Regions from separate parts of the Homo sapiens genome. Here region 2 is linked to region 1. The links come from fine-mapping of genetic effects on gene expression. Tissue or cell type: blood mononuclear cells. Region 1 holds a variant in brackets; the other region holds the start of a gene. All regions are shown on one strand. Distances are between the middles of the regions. Region 1 has its middle 55 kb from the start of CCN1. Region 2 holds the start of DDAH1 (dimethylarginine dimethylaminohydrolase 1).

Region 1 (2,914 bases):
TGGGATTGTTTCTACTGAAGACTCATCTGGCTACAAAACAGAACTACTATCAACCTGAGAAAGAATCCAGCTGTTGCTTTAAAATTAACAACTTCCCATTACATCATCAAGCCTGATAATCATCTTGCCTGCAACTCCAATTCCATCTCACCCTTTAATACTCCTTCTTTCCCCTAGGTCACTGGGAAGCTTGCTTGTGGCACTCTCTGGGATCCTGTTTCCAGTTACTGGTTGCGTAATGTATTGATAAAGCAAAGCCAAATATGAGTAAGAAGAAAAGCCTAATTAGAAATGAAGCACGCAGTGTCCCAACAAGAAAAATGCCAGGGCTTCAAAAATAGGAAATCAGTGATGCATAGTTTCTTCTGTCACTGAAGAAATCATCCCAGTACTTAATAAGCCAGAAAATGGATTAAGCAGATGGGGGGAAGTTGTCAGCGGCAAAGAATGGGCACCTACGGAGAAACAGAATTATTTAGAATCAAAATGACTGACTGGCACACATTAAAGAATATCTGTTTGTGTCTTGAAATGAATGCTATAGAAAATATAGTAGGTATGAAATATAGAAAATATAGTAGGTATGAAAACAAATGCAAAATCGGCCACCAAGAGAGAACATCACAGGCTATGGGCTGATGTAGAAATGCTGGAGATGCTGACTTTTTTTTCTTTATCGAATTGACTATTTGAGTGAAGCAACCAAAATAATAACTTGGAGTAGAGTGTGGATGCAGCTTAATTCTAATAAACTTGCCCTTAAATATAAAGAAAACCTTTCTTTCATAAGAATCCACTCGTACAGCATATGTATCTACATATTCTTCTCTCCCTACACATATCTGAACATGTTTCTAGCTAGCTGACTGTTGACACTTAACTCAGTTGATAGGACATGTCCTCTGGCTCATAGGAGAAACAGCAAAGGTTCAGTACATTTAAGTCTTTGAAGATTATGGGAACAAAAACTCAGTTTTAAGTGTCAGGGAATTGCTGTATGATTTTTACCACATCACTTAACTTCTAAGTTTTCTAATTATTGTATTGTACAACTGAAAGAATGATATTCACACACACACACACACACACTCCATACCCTTGAACACTGAGAGACAATAGACTGATCAGGAGGCTCTTACATCTGCAAGAAACAAAACTGGAGACTAGCAGGACACATAGCTTCTGAGTGATGGCGTAACAAGTTGCTATTTATACCCCATCTTCCATTCACCAATGTGAACTAGGGGTCTATCCCTGCAAGAGAGTAATTTTAGAGAATGAGCTTCCGGGTGAGCTCACAG[G/C]TTAACACTGCTTGTATCACCATCTTGAGTCAGCAGTGGATAATGCTGTGCAGAATAAACTAATTTTAGTCCTCTGCGGTATCCTTGTAAACACTTCATAGTGATTCTTTAAAAAGTCAGTGGGAACTTGCTATCTCTGCTTCATTTCCTACTCCCAATAATTTGCTAGGGTTATTTTTAGGTAACTGTGTCTTACAGGATTTGTTTAGGTGAGCTCCTCTGTTTCAGAATGGCCATGTGAAAATTCTGCCACAGATTTTGAAGTCAGAAGGCTGTCTGGTTAAATGGATCCAGAAAAATTACTAACAGATATGGTGACAAAGGACATGGAAATGTAAGTGTCCTGTATGTGCTACAGGAAAAAGTGCTGCCCATCTTTCCCTCATTTCAGCAACACTTTCAGTGAGCCCCAGCTCATGGAAAGAGAGACGAGGAGAGAAAAAGGCTTATTCCTGAAGCTAATAGCTTTCCTTCTCTCTCTAATACTATATGTTTGCAGTGACAATGATCCCTCAGCTTCTGAATCATCTCCTCATTCTGTGATGTACCCCTGGGTTCTGAGTTTCATTTCTTTGGCAGTCAGTCACATGCTGAATATAGAGCACCTCTAATTTGTTCAGTGTCTCATGGATCACTGAGAAAGAATAGGGCCTTATGACAAACTCCACTGGTCAGAGCGCCCGGATCTAGGTGTGTGATCACAGCCTTTAACACTTGACCAGGAACTCATATTTCATGGAGTGAGAATTGTGAGACCTTGCACTAGGGTTTTGTGATTCTGAGAAAGATGCTGGGTTTGGCTGTATTTATCAAGGAATGTGGATACCAAGAGAAGGGGCTGAGTTGGGAAGAAGGGGGTAAAGAGAATTCTAGGCAAATTAAACCTCTCAGCAACGAGTATCCCATAGGCCAGAAAGAGTGTGAAGGGATTCAGTCATATGTGAAAGAAGTTCTGTGGTTTTTGTCTTGTCTTTCTTGAAAACCTCTGGCCCTGGAATGTTTGATATCGATTTTCCCTGGTCTAAAAAGAGAATTAGAGAATTTCAAATGAAGTGTATGTGACACAAAGTGAGAAGAGAAGGAGGGAGGGAGAAAAGAGAGGCAGAATCGGAAATGTTAATAGGAAAAAGGAAGAAAATGGTGTGTCCTGTAATTACTTATATAAGAAAGGCAGCTAATAAGTGTTCCAGGGTAGAACTTCTATTTCTTGAATTCATTAAAAGTAATTTTGAGACTCCTGGATTGGTGGCAGTGGAGGCAAGACTTTGCTAAGGAGAACTTTGTTTAAATGTCTCTTTCCAAAGCAAATACACATCATACCAAGATATACAACCTATGTGTAGCTTCACTGTGCTGCTGGAAACTCTGCCTCACTAGGTGATTCTTCTTTACTGAGGATCCTGCTGTCCTCATCTACCCCTTGAAAAGCGAGTTTGATGGACTCTGGGTGAGTAAAGCAAGTCTTTCAGAGGAGAGGAGAGGCAGCACCATTGGCTGTCTGCCAGCGAAAGGCTTGTGCAGCGGTCTGGTCTCTGTGAACCATGCAGGCAGTGTTGCTGCAGGATCCTAAGAAACCAACCTTTTCAGGAACGTTGTGTAAAGGAATGTCTGGA
Region 2 (2,914 bases), 61 kb before region 1:
TAAGCTCTATGAGGCATTTCCAATGTGAAGTGAATACAGACAAAATAGAAAAAAAATTCTTAAATCTCCAGAAATGAAAGAAACCACTAGCTTCTTGCAATGCCACTGGATGCCAATAGCAACGGAGTCTTGAGCCTGGGCTCTTAACTGGCAATGAGAAGAATCCCAGGCCAGATGGCATTTTAAAATCCAATCTCACTCTATTTGTCTCTCCCCACTAACCTACATTGCACTTAAAGCAATCAGCCATTTCACAAGCTGCAGTATTTCAAAGTAGTTACAACCCTTGAGAACAGAAAAACTCTCTTAATTGCTGTGAGTTTAAAAATATAGAGAATAAAAATTATGGAATTTGTGAAACAACCATCTCTAATTAAACACGCTCGCTAGCACACACACCCAACACCGCACAGAGTACAGCTTTTCAAACCTAGCCCATTCATGCACACATTTAGCACAGCTCACCAACAAAACACTTTTCCTTCCATTCATTCACTTACTAGTCCCGTTCTTTGGGACTCACTCGCCACCACTGAAAACTAACTTGAGAAGCCCCAGGTCTGTGGGCACCGACACCCCGTTAATTCATCCAGCTTGTCCTGCTCCGAGCGCCAGGCAGGACTTGGGGGCTTCGGTGTCACGACTGGCGCTGCCCCCTGGAGGGACGCCCAGCCTCCACCCGCCCTACCGGAGCGGCACCCCTCGCGGCCCTCGCTCCCTGGGAAACACTCAGAGTTGCACTGTCGTCGCTGCCGTTTAATTTTCACAAATAAAAATGCCCGTGAGACGGAATCCCCCGCCCACCCACCTGCCCGAGACCGTACAACCACATTGAATCGGATCCTCCAGAAGGCTGCCGGCAGCCGGGAGGTGTGAACAATGAACTTCTCTCTGACTCTCTGACACACACACACACACACACACTCGCCCCCCGACGGGAAGTTGTGAACTACTAGCCCGAGGGCCAATGGCGCGACTCCCCAGGCAACACGGCGGCCGGCGGCGGGGGAGGGCCTGGCGCGCGCCCCGGCCGCGCCCCTCGAGTCGGCAGTTACCTCCTTCCTCCGGCTCGGCGCCCCGGGTCGGGTGATGAGGGCCGTCTCCTCGCACACCACGGCCACGTCCTCCACGAAGACGCAGTCCGGAAGGCTCTCGTCGGCCGGCAGCTCCACCACCTGCAGCCCCAGCTTGCTGCCCAGCACGCCCACGTAGAGCTGGTGCTGCCGTTCCGCGCGGGCGACGTCCACCTCCTCGCCCTTGGCGCTTCTCAGCGCGTGCTGGCCGAGCGACTCGGGTAGCGCCCGCACCACGGCGTGGGTGGCCCGGCCGAAGGCGGCGGGGTGGCCGAGCCCGGCCATGGCTTCGGGAGGCTTAGGGGCGGCGGCGGCGGCGGAGGCGGCCGGGTCCTGCCGCGGGCAGCGCGCGCTGAGCCTGCGAGCGCCCGTCGGCTCCTCTTGGCAGCCGCTGAATGTGGTGCAGAAGGAGCCCAGCTCGCGCCCGGAGCCCTGCCCGCGCGACTGAGCATGCCCAGAGCTCCGGGCGCCGGCCCGCGCGCATCCCGCGCGCCCACTCCGGCGCTCGCGGGTCTCGCGCCAGCCCAGGCGGGAGTTGTAGCGGCGAGCGCCGGGCGAGGAGTGGGGCCAGGAGAGGCGGCCGGGGAAGCAGCGAGGGCAAGAAGTATGCGGAGGCGGGGGACCTCGGCGAAAAGCCACCGCTACCCGGACCTGGCGGTACCTGTGTTCTGTCGCAGGTGCACACCTCCCATCGTCCCCAGCGCGGACTTGGAGAGCCGGCCTCGGTCTGGACAGAGCAGCTGGAGGGCTTCCTGGTCTTTACCTGAACAGTTTAAACCTTGCGTGCTTACAAAGTCTAGCCCACTTTTGAAGAGCTATAATGGTTTACAGATTCTTCATGTTGAGCTTAAATCCCACGGGTCCCAGTTCTGTTTTCTGGCCTTACCTAAAGTACAAGTTTTTCTTGTTTTGTGTGTGTTCGCGTGTGTGTGTGTTTTCACAAAACAGCATTTGCATATCTGAAAACAGTTCTAATTATCTATGCTGCCTAACACCATCCTCTACCCCCCACCCTAAACCCCCTCCAGTCCTGGAGCCCAAACCACTGAAAAGTAACTAGTGATTTGGTTTCCAAGTCCCTTCAACATTCTGGTCAGCTTCCTTTTGATACACACCAATTTGCTTGTATCCTTTTAAAATCATAGTATCCGGAAAATAAACAATTCTTCCTGTGTGGTCTGACCAGCACAGACTACAGCAGCACCCTTGTTCCAGATGCTGGGCCTCTATGAACACTGCCTAAGCCTGTATTCACTTTTTTGGTGGTCTAGGGCCAAGGCCCAGGCTACAGCCTTCTTGCCAGAACTCTGATCCCAGCTTTTAGGAAACTCTGGATTTCTAGGAGCAGGTCTCTCTGAGCATCCTAGAATGGTTGCCCCAACTGAGCCCAGAGATGTGATCTGCCTTCTCTCCCCTCCCACAAGGGTGGTGTGAATTTATAAATGAGCTTCAAAATTCTCAGCTTCACATTTGAGGAGTTTTTTTTGTTTTTTGTTGTTGTTTTGTTTTGACGGAGTTTCACTCTTGTTGCCCAGGCTGGAGTGCAGTGGCACGATCTCGGCTTACTTCAACTGCTGCCTCCCCAGTTCAAGCAATTCTCCTGCCTCAGCCTCCTGAGTAGCTGGGACTACAGGTGCACGCCACCACTCGCGGCTAATTTGTATTTTTAGCAGAGACAGGGTTTCACCATGTTGGCTAGGCTGGTCTCGAACTCCTGACCTCAGGTGATCCACCCGCCTCCACCTCCCAAAGTGCTGGGATTACAGGCATGAGCTACCACGCCCTGCCCAAATTTGAGGAGTCTCAAGGACAGCTCTGACACTGACATTGGGAAGTGGGAC

What was found.
Region 2: DDAH1 starts here. The variant in region 1 is fine-mapped to the expression of DDAH1 in blood mononuclear cells (TOPMed, PIP 0.98).

Annotation. Positions count from the first base shown.
Region 1 is chr1:85,524,500-85,527,413 of GRCh38, forward strand. It overlaps a transcript of DDAH1 not described here. Among named protein-coding and RNA genes, the nearest start is that of CCN1, 55 kb to the right of the region's middle. The variant G/C (reference allele first, on the strand shown) is at 1,302.
Region 2 is chr1:85,463,688-85,466,601 of GRCh38, forward strand. DDAH1 (dimethylarginine dimethylaminohydrolase 1) reads right to left here and starts at 1,472. Exons shown (of 6, transcript NM_012137.4): 1 at 1,056-1,472. The coding sequence starts at 1,358. RefSeq lists silencers at 881-1,080, 1,321-1,730.